Regions from separate parts of the Homo sapiens genome. Here region 2 is linked to region 1. The links come from fine-mapping of genetic effects on gene expression. Tissue or cell type: whole blood. Region 1 holds a variant in brackets; the other region holds the start of a gene. All regions are shown on one strand. Distances are from middle to middle. Region 1 overlaps CAPRIN2 (caprin family member 2). Region 2 holds the start of CAPRIN2 (caprin family member 2).

Region 1 (10,850 bases):
AAGCCTCTTACTCCATACTCCCAGTTGCCCCTTTGCAATAGCAACTAGCATTATCAGTTTCTTGTTCCTCAGGAAAAATGTAAAAGAGCACACAAAATACTGTAATAGTGGTATTAAGAAGAGACAGTTCTTTTACCTAAGTCTGTATTAATAAACATCCTCCCCTCACATACATTCCCTGAGGATCACATAATAACATCTAATATTTGCACGGCTGATATACACACCTGGCTCTGTAGTGCTAAGCACTTAGGTGCTTTAGTTCATTTAATTCTCAGAATATCTCATGGAGAATACCTCAGTGTTAGATGAAAAACTAACAGATGAGGAATTAGAGCTCAAAAAGTTTCACTAACTTATCTGAGGTCACATGGCAAGAGAAGTGATAAATGAGGGGTCAAACCCAAGGCATTTAGATTCCAAGATGTTTTCCACTCTTTTTTTTTTTTTTTTTTTTTTTTTGAGACAGAGTCTCGCTCTTCTTGCCCAGGGTGGAGTGCAATGGCGCTATCTCTGCTCACTGCAACCTCCACTTGCCAGGTTCAAGCGATTCTCCTGCCTCAGCCTCCTGAGTAGCTGGGATTAAGGCGTGTGCCACCACGTCCGGCTAATTTTGATTTTTAGTAGAGATGGGGTTTCACCCTGTTGGTGGTCAGGCTGGTCTCGAACTCCTGACCTCAAGTGATCCACCTGCCTCAGCCTCCCAAAGTGCTGGGATTACAGGCGTGAGTCACCACGCCTGGCCTTCACCCTTTTCAATACTGCCTCTGTGTGGATATCCATCCTACCCTATGTAACTGTAAGTTCTTCAAGGATAGGTATTTTATATATTACCAACAGAACTCAGTATGGTACCATACACATACTCAAAAGCTTGTAAAACTTCAAAACTGAATATGCTGATGTATTATAGATTCAAATCCGTAAGTTCCCAAGTTTTGTTAAAGTGGAATTTCTAACATCCTCTTATGAGTCTTTTACCATATGTAGTAAAGAAAATATGCTGGGTTCTTCAAGTAAGTATAAACAACAACAAAAAACTTAACGAAAAAGGGCTTTGCTACATTTGCTATTTAGGCAAGTTAAGCTGAAGGCAATGTAGTAAAGTTAAAATCATGGGCTCTGGAGTAAGAAAGTCACATTCTAATCTTAGTTTACCATTTCCTTGATAAGTGACGTTAGGTAAGTTATTTAACCTCTGAACCCATTTCTCCTGTGAGGTGGAAGAGCAAATGAGTTAATGCAAACAACATGATTAATAATGTCCTTAACACCTTCTAAGTTCCACATAACAAGCAATTATCATTTATCTTTCTTGGGTAATTGCAAAAACTTCCAACTCAACTCTTCTCCATAGGACTTACAAGTAGTTTTAAAACTAAGAGTGCACTTTCAGAAAACAAATTATGACTCTGCGATATACTTCAATCACCAGCTTAACATCAACAACTGTACCACTATTCAACTATGACAACTATTCTTACTTACCCTTTGGGAATAAGGTGCTCCAGAATACTCTCTAGCTTGGAACTGCAGCTGGCTATAATTTCCATTGGAAATTGAAGGGAGTCCTCTATAAGTATCAAAACCTAATAAATAAACAAACTTACATAAGATTATGGACAAAATCATATTAAACTTTTAAACAGTCTAATTCTATATTGCTTTAAAAGTTAAATTGATTATATAATGCCATCATTAGACTTATGCCCTCTTTAAGCAAACTCTACTAATATTGCTTCCAAAGTAAAACATATTTATAGAACATTGCTGTCTTCAAATAAGCCAGGTTTATAAATTTACTACTGCTAAATGCAAGGTGGGGTTGGGAAAGGGTGGTGGTAGGGCAGTTAGGTACTTAGGGCCTCTGTCTAGGGTTGTTTTGTTGTTGTTTGCTTTTTTATAGGCAGTGCCTCGCTCTGTTACTCAGGCTGGAGCACAGTAGTGAGATCACAGCTCACTGTAACCTCAAACTGTTGGACTCAAGCATTCTTCCCAGTTCAGCCTCCCAAGTAGCTGGGACTACAGGTGCATATCACCATGCCCAGCTAATATTTTTTAATTCTTTGTAGAGGTAGGGTCTCACTATGTTGCCCAGGCTGGTCACAAACTCCTGGCCTCAATGATCCTCCTATTTTGGCATCCCAAAGTAATGGGATGACAGGCGTCAGCCACCACACCCAGCCTGTCTAGAGTATTTTTGTTAATAATAAGTAGTGACTAGGACACTTGGAACCATAACAACAGTTTAAGAGAATATCACTATTATAGTCTCAAATTCTATATTCTTCTTTGTGACATAATCTAACAAATAACTAGAAATAATTAGAAAATGGGCATCTTGTAAATATGATACACTTTTAGCAGAGTTAAGTCAACAAAAGAAAAACATTACTCAAATATGAAAATTCATCCTTTGTAAAACAATATGGTGAAACTTTCCACTTCAGTAAGTCACAAAATCAATCTGCTTTTCATACAGAAAATTAGTTCCTCTGTTATGGAGAATAGGTATATTAAAAATACTTTATTATCCACAAACAGGAAATTCTCTACTACGTTGCAAATGACAAAAGGGAGCAAGGTTAGGTAAAAATGGTGTGAGTCAAGTAAACACACAGACAAAATAATTCAGTATAATTCAATTTTATTCAGGGCATACCTTTATAACCACCAGGGGACCGATAGGAATTGGTTATTAATCTCCCACCACGAGTACATCCTCTAACAGATCCCCGGCTATTGACAAATGGCTGAGTAGGTCTGGGAAACACATTCGTCTGTGCTGGGTAAAAGGCAAGGCTACCATTGCTTACTTGAATAGTTCCATCAGGATGATAATTTGCTGCTTAAGAAAAACGATTTTAGGGTCCAAGAGTTAAATGGTAATAGTCTTTATACTTAAAAGCCAATATATATCAAAATCATTAATACAATTTGCTGCCTTTAAAAATAAATAGGAGATACATATATTCATGTATATAATTCATCTACATGACTCAAATACGTAATTCATATATATAATGGAATATTATTCAGCCTAAAAAAGGAAGAAAATTTTGACCCATGCTACAACATGAATGAACCCTTAAGACATGCCAAGTAAAATAAGCTAGTTTCAAAAGCACAAATATTGTATACCACTTATATGAGGTACCTAGAGCAGTCATTTTCAGAATCAGAAAGTAGAATGGTGGTTGCCAGGGGCTGGGGGGAGAGGAGGAGGAGGAGTTAGTATTAAATGATTACAAAGTTTCAGTTGGGGGGAGATGAAAAGTTCTGGAGGTGGACAGTGGTAATAATTACACAACAGTTTGGTTGTACTTAATGCCACAGAACTATATAGTTAAAAATGATTAAAATGGTAATTTTTATGTTATGTATACTTTACGACAATTTTTAAAAAGCAGGCTAAATACTCCAGATGAGGGAGTAAAAGAAAATGGATTCTAATTAATATCTGAGAAGGCACCTGACAAAAATATCCCTTACGTAAGTCACCTGCCCTGTCTTTCAACAGTAGAGGGGAGAACAGAATCAGGTCATCTATGCCTAGGTCCCAGAATTCATATTACTACCTCTTCATCACTTGATTAGCCAAGTACTCAGAATGCTCAATTCATTTGCTCCGACTTCAGTTAAAAAACTCAATAGGGATCTGAAATACCAATACAAAAAATCTACAAGTGCTTCTTAAATTTAAATTAAGAAATGAGTACAAAGTTACCTATTCTTTCATGATTTAGAACAGCATGAAAAATCAAAATAGCCTCCCATCTCTAAGCAAACAGTACAATGAGCATACTAAGTCATATCTTCAATCTTTTATTATAAGATAGAAAAGGACAGATAACCATTTGTTAAAAGGATTAACAGAATGGTTTCAAAACCTTCATATAAGCAGCCAGATAGTGCCCATCTACCTCAATCACTGTCTGTGGTAATCAAAGCAAATAGATTTAAAAATACAAACCTACTTCAAGGTTAAATCCGTCATCTAAGTTCTATCTCTACAAAAATTAAAATTAATAGGTAAACTTAACACAAAAAAGGGCATTAGGTTTTTCTCAACACTGGAGGAACATGTAAAGAAATAATGCTTACTGGTCAGGAAAATACTTCTAAAGTGTCACTACAGACTTCCTAGACTTGCTGTCCATTCAATTGGCTGTCCCTCTAAGTCTTCCAAATATCATATGCAAAGATCTTACCAGTCTCTTGAGAATGGACAGTTTGTTCTACATGTATAGATGGCAGTTGGCACTGGGGTGGTGTTTGTGTACTTGCTGTGGTAAAACTTTGATTGTAGCCAGGTGAATAAGGGGATTCTTTTATTTCTTGTTCTTTTCGTGGAGGCAGAGGTGCATTAACGTTAAATACCTTAAAAGACAAGGACACACTGAGTCATTTGGGAAGTTTCAAAGAAAATGCTTAAGGGTGGTATCCAGCAAAATTGTACATTCAAAAACTTCTATTTTGCAGGCAAAGGACTTGAATAGACATCTCTCCAAAGAAGATAAATGGCAAATAAGCACATGAAAACATGCTCATCATCATTAGTCATTAGGGAAATGTAAATCCAAACCATAATGCCATAAAATTTTATACCCATTAGCAGGGCTATTATCAAAAAGACAGAAAATAAGTGTTGGCAAGGATGCGGAGGAACTGGAACCCTCATGCATTGCCGGTGGGAATGCAAAATGGTGCAGTCGCCCTGTGGAAAACAGTATGCTGCCTTTTCAAAAAGTATAGAATTAACATATGATCCACTAATTCCATTTCTAGGTATATACCCAAAATAACTGAAAGCAGGACTCAAACAGATATTTACACACCCATGTTCATAGCAGCATTATTCAGAATAGCCAAAAGGTACAAACAACTCAATTTCCCAACAGATGAATGGATAAGCGAAATGAAGTACATACATAAAATGGATTATTCAGCCATACAAAAATGAAATCCTGATACACTGTATAACGCAAATGAACTTTGAAAACATTATGCAAAGTGCAGTAAGCCAGATACAAAAGGAAAAATGTTGTAGGATACCACTAATATGAGGTAGAATAGGTAAATTCATAGAAGCGAAGTAGAATAGAGGTTAGCAGAGCTGTGGAGGGGGTTACAAACAGGAAGTTATTGTTTAATGAGTACTGAGTTTCTGTTTGGAATAATGACAAAGTTCTGAAAGTAGTGATGATGATTGCACATTATGAATATACTTAATGCCACTGAATTGTATACTTTAAAAAGATTAAAATGGTAAATTCTGTTACATACATTTTACCATAGTAAAAAAAAAACAAAAAAACACTCCTACTTGATTCCTGACAGATTTTACACCTAACAGCAAAAGTTAATCTTCCTGCTATTATGCTATCATAATAATGCTGAGAATAAAAGCTATACAAGGGTAAGGGGTCTTTTTTTCAAAAACTAAAGATGAATGAAATATTTTACCATTTAATGAATCTTTACCACGTGGCAAGCAACGATCTGTCCTTCTATGACTCTCTAGCTCCCTGATTCTGCTCCATTTTTCTTTACATCACACAGCACCTGATATACAGGTATTTGTCTCCCTAGCCCTCCTACCTCCATACTAAAATGTTAAGTTTCCTGAGCATACTTTCCTTTTTTCACTGCTACAACCTCAGTGATTAAGAACAGTGCCTGGTTTTGTAACTATTCTTTAATCAATAAATGAGTAAGAACCAATGTGTACCGGGTAGGATTCAAACAGGCAGAGAAAACAGATTGGCATGAGCAAAAGGTACTGTGACAAGAATATATAAGGCAAGCTCAGGGGACTAGTGTGACAGGTTATAACAGACTTGAAAAGGTACTGAGTGTCAGAGTACTAAATTTCATTCTGTAATGGAACACTGCTTGCTTTTAATTAGACAAAAGAAAAGGTAAAACCAATGTGGCTATACTGTGCAGGATGAACTGACAGGAAAAGAGTGAAAGCAAGGAACTATTCTATCTAGAAATAAGATATTCTAAGTGATCAGGTGAGTGAATTCAGCTGTCTGGACTCACCAGCCGATCTCCCGGGGTGGTGCCTGCTTTCCATGCTACTCCACTGGCCCCACTACCACCATCACTCCGAAGTGCTTGGAGTGGGACACTAAGCACCAATAGGAAGGGTACTTATTGGCTCACTAAGGCTTTTTTCCCCCACAAAGAACTGTTTTATACTAGTCTGTGTTTAGAGAATAAACATACCAAACTAGCTGTAATATTATTTTTTTAAAAAGCCTTAATTGCAATTTGTAGAAAAATACGTAATTCAAAACACCACACAAATCTGAACAAATCTCCAAAAACCATCTTGAGATCAGGATAAAATAAAATGAAAGTTTCAGCAATGACAGAACACCCAAGTATGTGTCCGGTATTTCAGGTTACTGATGTTAGGGAATAATACTAGTAAAGATATTAGTAATGGTTAGTATTATTAAGCTGTTGCTAGAAATTCTGTTTCTCACCCACACATTTTGTTTGTTTAATATGGATCCTCAGCTTTGCCTGCTACTAATTCTAAAAGAAGGAATAATGCTCTGATAAAACACCCATTTAAAATTCTAGAGGCTGTGGATTTCCTATTCTTCTGCCACAAACAAGTACTGCCATTGGCCAAATATAATTCTACCAACCCAAATAAATTTTACAAAAGGCAAACTTTTCACATAGTATCCAATAATTATGTAAGAGAAACAATGGCTTTTAACAGGAATAATGAACTGCAATCATCATTCATGTTTCATACTCACTGTCTGCATGGCTTGAAAGGGTGCTGTGTTAATGGTTACTGAACTACTACTTGCTGGAGGTGACTGGAAGCCCTGTTCAGAGCCCTTTGCCATGGGAGGATTTGGAGAAGCTAGTGAAGACGGTTGCTTGCCTGGGGGAATTGCTGCCTGGGGAGGAGAAATGCAGCATCAGCCAATCACCTGCCATATAACAAGCAGTTAACTTACTCTAAAACCCAAACTGGCATAAGTCAGCAAGTTCTTTAGGATGACATTTGGACACAGGAATGCAAAAGAATAGCTTTTGCTTACAATTTCAAATCTCAATTGCTGAGGATGCATACCAGTATTTGCTTTGCACAGCTTGCTGACTAAGTGAAAGAGTCTTACCAATAATCAGTCTAACAGATGAGGGGCTGAACTTTTTATACGCACCTAGTCCTTTTCAAACCCTGAAATGGTAATTTCCAGTTAAGAACCTAATATTATTCAAAATTTATACATCAGAATTGGATTTAAGAAAAAACTTGGATTAGTTGTTTAGTGTTAATTTTTCTCTATTTTAAAGACTTATTAGTTAGTAGGTTTCTAAGTCAGCTACCTAAAACAGAAAACAACTCCGATCCAATTTAAGTAATCCTTACCTAAGGAAGCCACAAGTTCTTGACATAACAGATTATAAATCCAAAGGCTTAAAAAAAATACCAAAAACCAATCTCAACTAGATTGTGAAGCAGACAGCTGTGAGTTACTTGGTAACAATCACTTCTTCCTCTTCTTAAAATGAGGAATGAGATAATTTAAATTCAGATCAAGCCAGCACCATAAAAACTAAGGATTATCTATATTTTCTTATATTCTATAATGAATACATATTCTTCTATAACAGTTAACAAAAAATACCTGATAGTTGCTAAATTACTCCTCAAAATTCATCCTACTATGTCCATCTCAAGGATTTACTCAAACTTAGTAAAAACTGTAACTTAGAATTGAAATTGAAAGCACAAACATAATACTGTTAAAATGTTTTTATTTATTTATTTTTTTTGAGATG[A/G]AGTATCACTTTGTCACCCAGGCTGAAGTGCAGTGGCACAATCTCTGCAACCCCCGCCTCCTGGGTTCAAGCAATTCTCTGTCCTCGGCCTCCTGAGTACCTGGGACTAGAGGCATGAGCCACCACACCCAGCTAATTTTTGTATTTTTAGTAGAGATGGGGCTTCACCATGTTGGCCAGGCTGGTCTTGAACTCCTGACCTCAAGTGATCCACCTGCCTCGGCCTCCCAAAGTGCTGGGATTGCAGGTGTGAGCCACTGCATCTGACCGAAAATATTTTTGACAAAGTTAGCCAAAACAAGATTGTAACTCATTCCAACTCAATAAGTGCTAATATTAATAAAATAAAGTTATTGAGCTTTCATTTATACAAATAAGAGACTTTTCTCCTAAAAGTCCTTCAGTGTAAATATAGTGGAAAACTTGACTTAATGCTACCTACACTTTTCATTTTTTTAGATTAAAAATGGACATTTATTGCACTAGATAAGGCAATACCATATTAAATCTATTTATATGGCAAAGCTACAATAAAGTTACCTGTAAAAGTTCCAAGATCACAATATCTATAGAAAGCAATACATTAATAAAGTATAAATGTTACATCATTCAACTAATCATGCCTGTAATTCATAAGATAAACTGGTTCTGCTATTCTTTAAGATACAAAAGAAATTAAGACAATTGGTCTTTTACCTCAGGAGTCTCTGAGGTCATAAACTCTGTTTCAGATCCAGAAGAAGCCTGATCGGTAGTAACCAAGCAAGCATTTGAGCTACAAGTAACTGGAGAAGAAGTAGCCTAGACACAGGAAAATACAAAATATTGTAAAAGGCACATTTTGTTCACTTTATATTTCTTGGGCCCTGGCCTTCCTAATATGTTACTCTTACTGAACACGCACATGTGTCAAGCACTCTGCTAAACACTTTATACGTGTTAATATATTTAATCCTAACAGTAATCTGTGAGGTAGGTACTATTCTCATTTTATTGACAATTAAGCAGTGGCAAAGAAAGGTTAAGACATTTGCCCAAGATCATACTACAATTAAGTGGCAGAGCTGAGATTCAAACTCAAGCAGCCAGCTAGCTACACTGCCTGTCCAGGCCTGGTCACCAAAACTACACATCTCATCCCATGTTCACTGATTCTTGGCCCTGTAGTAGATAGCATTCACGGGAAGGTGAGCTCCGGGTACGTTTAACACTGTAGGCACAGCTCTGCCAGAGATCATAGTATAACTGTGCTTTCATGCTAAGTGCTATCAGCATCCTAAAGAGGCAGGCTGAAATATAAATAGGAAGAATAAGCTCTACATAAATCAGAATGGCACCAAAAATTCTAGTGAAAAATCAAGCTGATAGCATATGTAAAATAAAAATTGGGAGAAAGCACATTAGGAAAAAAAGTTGTGACAACTGTAACCAACAGAAAATTAAAAGAGTGGCTAGGAAAGAATTCTATCGCACAACAGGTATTCAAATACAGCAGAGAGACACCCATAAAAATCTGGCAATAGCAAGATCTAAAGTGTCAGTGAATCCACTCCTTTTATCTAAATGCTTCTATGTGGTTCTCAGAAGCCCAAGTAATAAAATAGGTGAACTGGAAACTAATGAAGGGTTACAAAACAGAGAAATCATGTTTCAGTGACCTTCTTGAAGGAGGCATTATGATATGTTGCTTTTTAGGAAGGAGACTGGGGATTGAGTTTTAAGATCTTATGGAAAAAAATATTTGAAATCCTTTAGAACATTTTATATTACCCAAGTAAATAGGCATAACTTAGATCTGGCCAAAATATTAGAACCATTATAAGATTAGAGCGTTTCTAAAACTAGGTCGTTCTTCTGGCTCTGTCATTAAAGTAATGAGACAAGTGCCCAAGAAAAGTAGAACTGGCTGTTGTGGGGAAATAACTAACTCTGTTGCTAAGGGAAGATTCACAGATGCTAAATTAAGGCATCTTAGGCCACTTGATAGTTAATCTTAAAATGGCTTCAATTTCAGTTAAAAGGTTCATTTAATAACAAAGACATTTACATTAGTATTTAGTTAGAAGTGATGGCAGTTCCTGCTTCCAAATTAGTGCTTTTTAAGTAGACCAGTTGGAGGTGGGTTATTGGTGAATAAACATGATATTTGAAACCAATGTTCCAAAAAATGGGTATGAAGATTCATCCAGGAAGCTTTTAAAAATATAGGCAACACCCTAGAAAATTCTGCTCCAACAGGTCTAAGATCTTATCTAGAAATGTATACCTTATGACATATAAAGTGGGATGGCTTCGATGCAGCCATCCCACAGCCTCCACCAGAGAACTACTAAGCTAGACCAGTGCTTTTCAAAAAATTTACCTTGTCAATTGAAAGCCTTATGTAGAACCCTAAACAGCTAGAACAAAAAATGTAACTGCTTTAGTAAAAGCAGTCAGTGAATTGGAGGAAAGTAGGAAAAACCCCAATATACCCTGCTCAACAAATACAGTTTGAAAATTAAGGCTGAGTGCAGTGGCTCACACCTGTAATCCCAGCACTTTGGGAGGCCAAGGCAGGTGGATCACGAGGTCAGGAGCTCAAGACCAGCCTGGCCAAGATGGTGAAACCCTGTCTCTACTAAAAATACACAAAAATTAGGCAGGTGTGGTGGCAGGCCCTATAATCCCAGCTACTCGGGAGGCTGAGACACAGAACTGCTTGAACCCGTGAGGCAGACCAGACGCTGCAGTGAGCCGAGATCATGCTACTGCACTCCAGCCTGGGCGACAGAGTGAGACTCTGTCTCAATAAAACAACAACAACAAAAATTAATTTCTTTCTTCAGACACTTTACTATGTTAATAAACTAAATTACTTAAGTAGCTCAAGAGAACATAATATTCTTAGACAAGGTACCCTCTGATTTCTTCAGGCTTGGTCTCTCCTTACTAAAGTCAGCAAACCTGTACTATATGTTTTCAGCATAGTCATCGGGGAATCATTTTAGGACAAGTCGTATTTAATCTACAAAACTAGATATGCTTAGAAC
Region 2 (10,850 bases), 37 kb after region 1:
TAATAAATATTTTATATACCTACTACATGCTACACTCTATTCTACGCACTAGGAATACAGCAATGAACAGACAAAATCCTTACTTTCATGGAACTTACATTGTAAGGGTAGGAAACAGACAAAATAAAACTTCATAGCTTGTCAGAGAAGTGCTAACTTCTATTAAGAAAAATTAAGCAAGGAAAGGAGCTAAGCAGTGTGAATGGGGAAGTGGAGGTATAGTGAGGTGAGAACAGATCTCACTGTGGGTACCTTCAAATAAAAGGCTGAAGGAGGTTGGGAATTGAGCCACTGAAACATCTGGAGAAAGAACATCCCAAGCAGTAGGAATATCACGTGCAAAAAACCCTGCAGAAGTGTGCCTGGGATGTCTGAGGAGCAGCAAGGAGGCTAGGGTAGCTAGAATGGAGCTAGCGAGGGAAAGAAGAGCAAGAAATGGAGTCAAAATGTCAAAGGAAGTGGGAAGGATATTCTGTAGGGCTTTGTAGACACACTAAGGACATTTTACCACCAGAGGGGAACAAATGGGGACTTCTGAGCAGAGGAATAACCATCTTGACTTGCATCAGTACAGGATCACTGAGTTTACTACGTTGAACAGACTTGGAGAGGGCAGAAATAGAAAAACCTGTGAGGCAGAAGTAATTACTACTATAATAAGTAACGCAGATGAAAGGTTATATAGCCTAGATGAAGATGGCAGAAATGGTCAGTTTCCTCATTTATCTTAAAGGGAGAAGTGAGCAGACTTGCTGATGAGCTAGATGTGAGCTATGAGGAGAAAGGAGATAAATTCTCCAAGATTTTTGGCAACTCCTGCTAGTTGATCAAGCCATCAACTGACATAGCTAAGATTAGAGGAGGAGCAGGTTTTGGGGAACAGGGAAAAATTATGAAGTGTCGGATAGGCAACTGGACACAGAAATATTGAGTTCAGAGGACTGATCTGTTGGCAATATAAATTGGGCAGCTGTCAGAGTATTACTCCAGATATCAAAGTTCATACATTTATTATAGAAGCAACATGTGGCTATAAAGACAGTAATGAAATACTGAGAATGAAGTTTGCCTGGCTGGAGCAATGAAATATAGCATGTCTTTAACATTTCTTAGAGAGCTACCATGGGAACAATCAATCTCCAACCCCCTCTCCCCGATGTTTCTTAAAAATAAGGAACACAACTCTAACAGGACACTTCATTCAAGAATATTTACACACAAAAAAGTTTTATCACTTTAAGAGTTATTGAACACACCGTGATTTTAAAACAAAGCTATGCTGAAATGCTGCATGTCCAGCTAAGCCCTCTCCCCAGCTAAGTGAGCGCACCATTTGCAGAGCTCACACAATTCAAATATGTGTCTCAGCAAAATTATAACTTACTACATCACAAAAATTCTGGGTCAGTGAAGAGGAGTCACTATGGAATGGGAAAAGTCCTTGAATGTCAGTATCTATGATGTATAGCGAAAGATTTCAGTTGAAAAACATAAAGACAAAAGACCCACAAACAAGAGGAAATAATTTTCAAATAAATGTGTCCCTTCTTAGCCAGGAGACATGATCAAGTCAAAATGGCAAACATCCACGAAGCACTGTTTTCTTTCCGCGCTGCAAAAACTCTCCTTCACAAATTACATAAAATTTGCAATTACCAGGTATATCATTGAGAAGTTAACCGATGGAAAAAAATGCAAGTAGCTTAATGTTTATAGTAAGCTTTTTTTTTTTTTAAAGGCCAGATATCTATCAGATAATATGCCTCCTGAGAGGGCACACGAAAACCCAGGATAGAAAAGTAGGAAGAGACCATGAAAGGAATTAAGGTGAGGCAGCTAGAGAAAACTAAGGTAAGCTACAGTAAATATTCTTTCACATTCTGGAGCAGAAAGATGTCAGGTTTAGAATATACCAGTGAAGAGCTGAAAGGTAGAGTATGCCTTCTCTTCTCCTTCAGTCCACTCTGGCACATAAGTTTAACTTAAATCTGTATGTTAACTCGTAGTGACAGTCTACACTTTCACTCCTGTTAACAATCTACACCCCCATGCGTACCATCTTCTAGTCAACAGAACAAAAAGTCATATCTGAGATCTAACAGGCACAAACAACAAAGTCTTCTGAAACAGTTTTGAACAAACTATGGATTTTAACTGTGTGTGTGTGTGCTATAAAGACTGATCGCACTAAATCCATGTAGTTTTATTAAGAAAAGAAAACCAGCAAGTCTTACTAAAAGATCATAAGCCACTTACCAACTGGTCTGGATTAAGATGCTCTCCACTTTTCAGGCGATCCTTATAATCCTCCAGTTTGAGCTACAAAAGAGAAACTTGTATCTACCATAGTCTGACATAAAATTCAGAAGCAAATAAAGTAAATGCCAGATCTTGTCTCTAGGAAACAAAGTCCTTGAAGTAAGCTATCAATCTGCAAGACTATCATTTTACTATACGGCATGCAGCAACTGTAGATGAGTTCCAGTCAGGGGAGAAAAAATACACAGAATCACATGAGTCTGGAATTACAAAACCTAAGCAGTAATAAAACTATTTTCTCTTAATGACTCTATTAATAACTAGACTACTTAACCCATGGGGACTTACCTACTAAATCATGTGTCCCCAACACAGTAGCTTCTCAACAGGGAACAATTTTGTCCCCCAAAGATACCTGGCAATATCTAGGGATATTTTTGGTTATCACAACTTGGGAGGGGGAAGGGAGGTGAAGAGTGCTACCGGTATCTTGTGGTTAGAGGCCAGGGATGCTGCCAAACATCTTAAAATGCACAGGACAGCCCTTTACAACGAAGAATTATCCTGTACAAAATGTCAGTGGTGTAGAGGTTACGAAGTCCTACTCTAATCTCATGCTTAAACTATTAGTTCAGTTACCTGTTGAATTATGTGGCATTTTCCTAAAAAGAAACTCCTATTGGAAGTACAGAAACACCAAGAATTCTTTTCTATCATTATCATAGAGTAGGCTCATCTTGAAGTTATTTTTCATATTATATTTGATACTTAAGGAAATTATGAAAAATAAATTGCATTTGTTGGCCCCATAATAATGACATAAACCCACTATGGTATTTTTTTTTTTTTTTTTTTTTTTTTTTGAGACAGAATTTCACTCCGTTGCCCAGGCTGGAGTGCAGTGTCGCGATCTCGGCACACTGCAACCTCCACCTCCTGGGTTCAAGCGATTCTCCTGCCTCAGCCTCCTGAGTAGGTGGGATTACAGGCACCCCCCACCACGCCTGGCTAATTCTTTTTGTATTTTTAGTAGAGACGGGGTTTCATCATGTTGGCCAGGCTAGTCTCAAACTCCTGACCTCAGGTGATCTACCTGCCTTGTCCTCCCAAAGCGCAGGGATTACAGGTGTGAGCCACTGCACCCGGACCCACTATGGTACTCTAAAAGCATTCTTTAGGTTCCTCCTGTATTGGCTTTAGTGGAAAAATTCTTTCCCAGAAGGTTGAAACAAAAGTACTCGTACTATCTGGTATTCAAAATTAAAGAGGTACTATAGGTAAGCTAGAGAGCATAAGCATACATATATGTAGTTCCTCCACCTGAGGGAGGCTCCGTCAATAGATCCTGCTTTGATCATTTATCACAGTGATGGGGAATTTGTGCTGACCTGGCACACTCACCTTACCACACTTGTGATCAACTGCATACGTTAAAAAGATAAATGGTGAGAGCTACAGAGAAGCTACTAGCAACTTGCCCTTCTTTACTTTCTTAGGTTAAAAAAAAAAAAAAAAAAGAGTCAACCAGACTCTAAAGAGTCTCTTCACACTCCTCCATTAAAAGCAACTTTAAGGTCTAACTAGGTCTTGGCACAAAAGTACTTAACAACACATAGGTCCAGATAGTCACTCAACCTCACCTGTCCAAAAGCAGAAGAGAAACGTAATACAGCAAAGCAACGTGCAGTCTGTTTCACAGGCTACATGACTCAGGAAATGAAGAAGGATTTAGATCTTTACAACAGCATTTTCTGTAGCTAGGCTTAACTCCTGGGTCTCTTTACAAGGCTGACTACCACGCTTTCACCTAGCAATCTTAAATCTTCACCTAACACCACAAAAGTAAGTGGTAAAACATTTTCTAGTTCTACTACGGTTAAACCTTCCAACGACTGCAGCAGTTATACTGCAATATCAACTGCTGCAGAAAGTCACAAGGAAAACAAGCTAAAAAATCAGCTATTAACACATCTATGAAAAGAAACATTAATACTACATAAGGAATTAATCTCACCTAAAATAGCTAGCTCTTAAAGTATTTCAACAGCAGCATGCATAATGTAACTATGAAGAATATTTTTATTCCGTTGTTTTGACAAATGAAACAGAAAATGTTTAATATTTCCAACACGTAACCTGCTTGTTTAAAGCAGCTAAACCTAAGGTTAGTTAAATTTTTAGTAGAGAACACCTATGAGCTCTGAAAGAAAAATGTCAGCTCCTTAATCTTTAAGATCATGCATCTACAGGACTGGAAGAAAAAAAGTTACCTTCTTTTTCTCGATGTTTCTAATTTTGTGTTTAAGGCATATGAGTCCATTTTCAATATAGGTCTCATACGCTTGGGAAGGAGATGCAGCAGAACTCAGAGTAGACTGCAGGGGGCTCAAGGCCCGCTGGCTTTCCCCATGCTGACTGTGGTTCACTTGGGGCTTGGCTGACTTCATATTCCCCTCTCTTTCCTCCTCTGAATGGCCTGAAGGTGACTGGTAACCAAAAGGGGATGAAAAGAGTTGCACCATTGAAACAGATGAGGCTGAAGGAGGTGGGGGAAAGTTAAGTATAAAATTAGGACTAGAGGGACACAGCCAGGCAATAACTTCCCTGGAAAGTCTAGACCACTCCCTTAAACTCTTTTCCACAGAAGTGAGCTCGAAACCCAATGATGCTTGAGATACTTGTACTTCCATCCTACTTTTAAAGTAATTAGTGCCGCTAGCCAATAAGGATAGCCTTTACATAGGCAAAATCTCCCAATACGGAGGATGTTTCCAGAAATTCGATTTTCCACATAGGGAGGAAGAACTGCAACGGCTTCAGAGCTCCTTTCTTCTCATGAGGGCAGATCACATTCTAAATAATTCCCATGGCCACGTGATGACACCAAAAGAATAAGCTTTCCACACCGGGACCTAAGGCTGAGCCACTCAAACCTCTTTACATGATCCCTCACCACCAGCCCTAACCTCAATCCTGAACGTTTGGAAGAAAATCCAAACTCACAACATTCTTTTATAGCTCTAAGTGAACCAGCAGCTTCTTGAACAAGAATGCTAACTTCCCCGATTGCTCTGGGGCCTACAAGGCAATCCATCACTACTGGACATTTGCAGACAGGTACTCTCTCAACCTGCAGGAACCCCGCGTTTATTCTCAGTTGTTTGGTTTAGACTAGCCCAAAACCGCTTACACCCAACCAGTTTAAGAGCTCATTCTAGCGAGCCCTTCCCGTGCCCTAATCAGTGGCCCTTGCGCACTTACGTATCCGTCTCTCGACCTCCAAGCACCCGAGGTATCCCTTTCTCCCCCCTTAGGAGCATCCCCAAACCAAGGACAGAACAGGCCCCATGCACGCCAGCGCGCACCCCCTCAAGTCTCCGGGGGAGCCTGAGCGAAGAGCACCTCTCCCGAGCGGCCACGGAGAGCCCTGCAGGCACCGACCCCCACCCTTCCCACAGCCGCCCCGGGTACGCAGAAGCCGCTTCTGCAAGGCCCCGGGGGAGGCTGACCTGCGGAAAACGCACCGACCGCGGCCCTCGGGAGCCCCGCCCCGCCCCGGGGATGCCAAGCCGCCCCTCCACCTCGCAGCGGCGCCGGCCGCCCAGACCTGCCCACCCTCGCCGGGTCAGCCGCCTCCCTCCGCCGCGCCGACCGAGGCCGCCGCAGCCCGACTTCACCTCCCCAGGCAGCCGAGGCCGCCGCTGCCGCAGCCCGGGCCCGCCTTCCAAAGCCTGGGGGAGGCAGGAGCGCTGCGGAGGTGGACCGGCGCCACCCCGCACTCGCGTCTCCTCCTCCTGTCTCCTCCCTCTCCCCTCCCGGTCCTCGCCCGCGGCCTCTGCGGCGCCAGAGACCCAGCCGACTCAGCCGCTCGCGCCCAGGCCCGCCCACCGCGCCGCGCGTGGCTTTTGTAGGCCGCGCCCCGCCCCGGCCCGCTCCGCCCTCGGCCGCCCCGCCACCGCCTCCTTCCGGTGCTCCTTCCCGGCTGCAGCTGGCCGCCAGCGCTTGTCGGGTGTTAGTTCCGGGCCCAGCTTGGGCTGGTGGTAGGTCGGGAGAGGGCGCGGTCTCCCAGCCTTTGCGCAGATTGCGGGGCACCAGGTGGGGCCGAGGCGACGCCGAACGCCGGCAGGCCGGAAACCGCGCAGCCCCGCTGGACCTCGCTGATTGCCGGCGGCACCGGTGGTTTCGCGACCTTGAACAGGTGACTCCAATAGCTCCAGGAGGGCAGCGAGCCCTTCGCGGAACTACCAGATAAGCCATGCTTGAGGCTGTCGTAGCCTAGTGGGTAGTCGTGAAATGCAGATGCGCCTTTGCCCCTCAGATAGCATCTTTCATAGTAGGATGGGGAAAAAACACCGTTTCCTTACCGGGGAATCAGCCTGTAAGAGCAGAATGCCCCAAATCAGCATCGCCATAAAAACGGAGTAGGTGACTTCGCAACCTGCAATAATAGGATTGAGTTTATTCAAGCCGTATTATTTGTTCATGTGACACACATTAATTGACTGGCACGCAGAGAAAGCTGTAAAAAATCTTTGTAAGGTTACATAAAATTAAGAGAAAAGTCTGGAAATATGTAAAAGTTTATTGAGGAAAGGAAGGTGTTTCTGATACCAAATAAGAAACACACACACACACTCAGCAATACTTTGCCCCAACATGTGTTTACTTATTACACCAAGTGGAGTTTTTTAGGTCCTGATTGTCCCTGACGCTCTGATAAAAAATATTGAGACTAGCAAAAGAACAGAAAATTCAGAAGAAGAATCAAGGAAACAAAGGTCTAGTTTTAAAAGCCTTGGTCAACTTCACACAAATTAATTTTAACATTACTTAATACATTTTTTTGGCATCTATTATCCGTGTTCTTTTCGGTCCCTGGTGACATAATGTACCCTAATGTTGCATTTTAACTTTGAATCTCTGAATCCCATATGTGTTCTTCAGGGTCAGAGAAATACTAGATTTTCCCTTTTTCTCATTGTTTATAAACAGAGAAACGCAGAAGATGCTGAACATGAGGAGAGGAAGGCTATGCCTTCACCTTTGGTAACACAAAAAACAGTGGCCATAAGAAAAAATGTGAAGGACACACTGTTGGATCAATGAGTTGACACAAAGTTACAGCACAGCCTGAGTTGTAGTCCGAGCTAATGATGAACCTAAAAATGGTATTTCAGTCAGATTAATCATGAAATGTTTGCCCCCTGCCGGCGCAGTGGCTCAAGCCTGTGATCCCAGCACTTTGGGAGGCCGAGGCGGGGTGGATCACCTGAGGTCGGGAGTTCGAGGCCAGGCTGGCCAGCGTGGTGAATATCCATCTCTACTAAAAATACAAAAATTAGCCGAGCATGGCGGCATGTGCCTGTAATCATGGCTACTCAGAGGCTAAGGCAGGAGAATCGCTTGAAACCCGGAGACGGACGCTGCAGTGAGCCGAGATTGTGCCGCTGCACTCCAGCCTGGGTGACAGAGCAAGACTCTATCTCAAAAAAAGAAAGAAAGAAAGAAATGTTTGCCTTCTAATCGGTCAGGCAAAAAGGAGGCCGTAAATTTTAAATTTTCTACTAAATGGATATTCTTCTAAATGAATAAATCCATACAGATTTACTTCTCAGGAAGGATTATAAAAATGCATCACGAAAGAATGCAAAAGCAAAAATAATTGAATTTCAAGTCCAGTAGGGTACAGTCTGTATACGTATGGCGTGACATTTGTAGGAGAACATACCACAGTAGATACTCTTGAAGCAATGTCTTCTGAACAAGTTAAAAAGATGATTCAGATAAAAGCTTTTCTGCTAGAGGAGATCTTTAAAGTCAGTAAGTCTGGCTTACTTTGAAAGCACATGTCCCCAAAACTTTTATTTGTCAGGAGTTTAGTTTATTTTACCCTCTCCCACTCCCTATTTTCTGTAAGACCGTGACTTTTCTTGCCAACTGTGAGGCAGTATCTGTGGCATGCCACCTCCAAGCTTAGCAAGGAATAACTATATTGGAAATATGATAAAAAGTGTTGTCTCGAATCATTGATAGAAGAATATATTCATTTATTCATTCAACAGATGTTTACTTAGCACTTGCTATGTAGTAGGTGATAAGGCATAATGGTGACTGAGACAATATAGCTTCTGCCTTCGTGGAGCTAAGTGGGAATTCAGTAAAAGCTATAGATGTAAATGGCAAAAACAACCAAATCAAAAAACCCGAAGACAAAAATACTAAAGACTTTAATAATGGATGGTTTGATTTCTACAAAAACAGCCAGACTTTACGTCCTTTGAAAATGTGAAGGTGTTAAATATGCACTGTCTGACAAATGTTCAATTGCTGCAGGGATGGTTATGCTGTAGTCACTTAAAATTAATATAGCTTCATATTGTTGAAACTGGAAAGATAAATCCACCAAAGGATGTGAAACCTGGTAGCGTGTTAGTAGAGATATGAGAAATTATCTTAGACACATGGTTGTGGGTGATAGAAGTCTGTTTCTTATTGGCTCTACGAGACTTTGTGGAGAATTGCCACCAAGAGACAGAGAGAGAGGGAGAAAGTCACCAAGAAAAATAATAAGAAGGCTAAGAAAGAAAAAGACAGGAACAATAACATAAGGTTGTTAAAAAGATAGTACTTTTGGCCGGGTGTGGTGGCTTAACGCCTGTAATCCCAGCACTTTGGGAAACCAAGGCAGGCAGATCACCTGAAATCAGGAGTTCAAGACCAGCTTGGCCAACATGGCGAAACCCCATCTGTACTAAAAATACAAAAATCAGCCGGGCATGGTGGTGCGCCCCTGTAATCGCAGCTACTTGGGACACTAAGACAGAAGAATCGCTTGAACCCAGGAGGAGAAGGTTGCAGTGAGCCAAGATTGCGCCACTGCACTCCAGCCTGGATGACAAGAGCGAAACTCTGTCTCAAAAAAAAAAAAAAAAAAAAAATATATATATATATATACAGTACTTTCACATACTTGCTGATTCATAGAGTGTCTATTCAAATATTTGAGAAACTTTTTATGAAAGTAAAGAACTGAGAAATATAGACCTCAGGTAGGAAAAAAAACTTGCCATAATAGTTTAGGGTATTTTTAGAGAAATATCTAGTTTGTAAGATTAATAATTTGGTAGGCTTATTTTTTCATAAAATTATACATTCCTATTGGTTTTGTTGATACTGTTTTTCTGATATTGAAGTTAATGCATTAATAGTGCTCCACCATTAAGTACCTTTGAAATAAAAGTTCTTTAGAGGAGGAGTAATCAGTGTAGAACTTATGAATGTGTGTCATTAAATCAATAATATCAAGCCCATAAAAATATGATTTCTGTCCAACTTTGAAGTATTATAAAGTGTCAACAGCATGGGCTTTGGAGCCAGACACACATGGATTGGATTCTTGTTCCTGCCCCTTACTAGCTGAATGATCTTGGGCAAGTGACTGAAATTCTGTGGGCTTCAGTTTTTTCAGCTGTAAAACTGCTGATAATAAAACAAACATAATATTACCTATTAACAGCATTGTTAAGGATTTCATTTCGTTTCTGTAAAAGCATCTGACTAGAGACTAGGCCATGAAAACATATCCTCCACTGAGATACCTGTATTTGCTGCTTTTGCCATAATACGAAGCCCAGCATTTCTCCTAGTAGCCAAGGAGAACTAGAGAACTGTGGAATTTATGGCTAAGGAATCCCACCCCCCCGCCCTTATTTGAAAGACAAGGTATATAAAGCTGGTGGACATTTGTGAGTTTTCCAAGACCTAAAGAATCTAGGTCTTCTGCCCTCTAATGCAACATGCACTCCAGGCCGCTTCATCCCTTTCCCTTGCTGCTTCCATGGAGTAAATAAAGTATAGAAATAGGCAATTAAACTTGAAGATTGAAACCAAAAAGAATAAGCAATTCAGTGTTACAGTGTCTTCAAAGGAATTCATTCAGAAAGACATTTTAAAATATTCATATCTTTTGATCCAGTAGCCTTTATTTTAGGAATCTCCCCTATCAAAATAATCAGAGATGCAAACAATCACTTATTTATGAAAATGCTAGGCACCACATTTTTTTAAGTGGTGGGAAATTGTAAACAACAACCTAGACACTCAACAATAGAGAAATGGCTAAATAATGTGACTCTAAGCCATGAATTTTAATTCAAGTAGTACAAATCATCTTTTCAAAGAATATTCAATGACATGATATTATATGAAGTGAAAAAAGGGCAGGATAAAACACGGTATAAAACATTTAGTAAGATTGTGACTTTGTAAAATATTTCATTTTAAATATGCATGGAAAAGGCTGAAAGATGTTTTCACTTTATTTTTATAGCATATGTTTAGTTTTTATACCAAACCAGAAAAAGTATTTTCCCAAAAACATGAAAGCTGCCCCCTCCACCGATTACCATTATTAACTTTTTGCTTATATTCTTCTAGACTTATTTCCAAGAAAATATCTGTATAATTTTTTACAAAAATGGGAATGTACTAAACATTTTGCAATTCTGCTATTTTGACTTAAAATATAATGAGCATCTTTTTATTAAAATAAACTTGGTGTGGTGGCTCACGCCTGTAATCCCAGCACTTTG

Evidence for each region. PIP is the estimated chance that this variant, and not a neighbour inherited with it, causes the effect.
Region 2: CAPRIN2 starts here. The variant in region 1 is fine-mapped to the expression of CAPRIN2 in whole blood (TOPMed, PIP above 0.99).

What each region holds. Positions count from the first base shown.
Region 1 is chr12:30,712,297-30,723,146 of GRCh38, forward strand. CAPRIN2 (caprin family member 2) reads right to left here. Exons shown (of 19, transcript NM_001385503.1): 13 at 8,515-8,619; 14 at 6,783-6,929; 15 at 4,212-4,380; 16 at 2,663-2,845; 17 at 1,489-1,589. Among named protein-coding and RNA genes, the nearest start is that of IPO8, 22 kb to the left of the region's middle. The variant A/G (reference allele first, on the strand shown) is at 7,819.
Region 2 is chr12:30,748,815-30,759,664 of GRCh38, forward strand. CAPRIN2 (caprin family member 2) reads right to left here and starts at 6,137. Exons shown (of 19, transcript NM_001385503.1): 1 at 5,937-6,137; 2 at 4,530-4,745; 3 at 2,257-2,319. The coding sequence starts at 4,706. LOC645485 (a long non-coding RNA gene) reads left to right here and starts at 6,260. Exons shown (of 2, transcript NR_135046.1): 1 at 6,260-6,457. RefSeq lists enhancers at 5,511-5,590, 5,594-5,763 and silencers at 5,691-6,370, 7,462-7,665.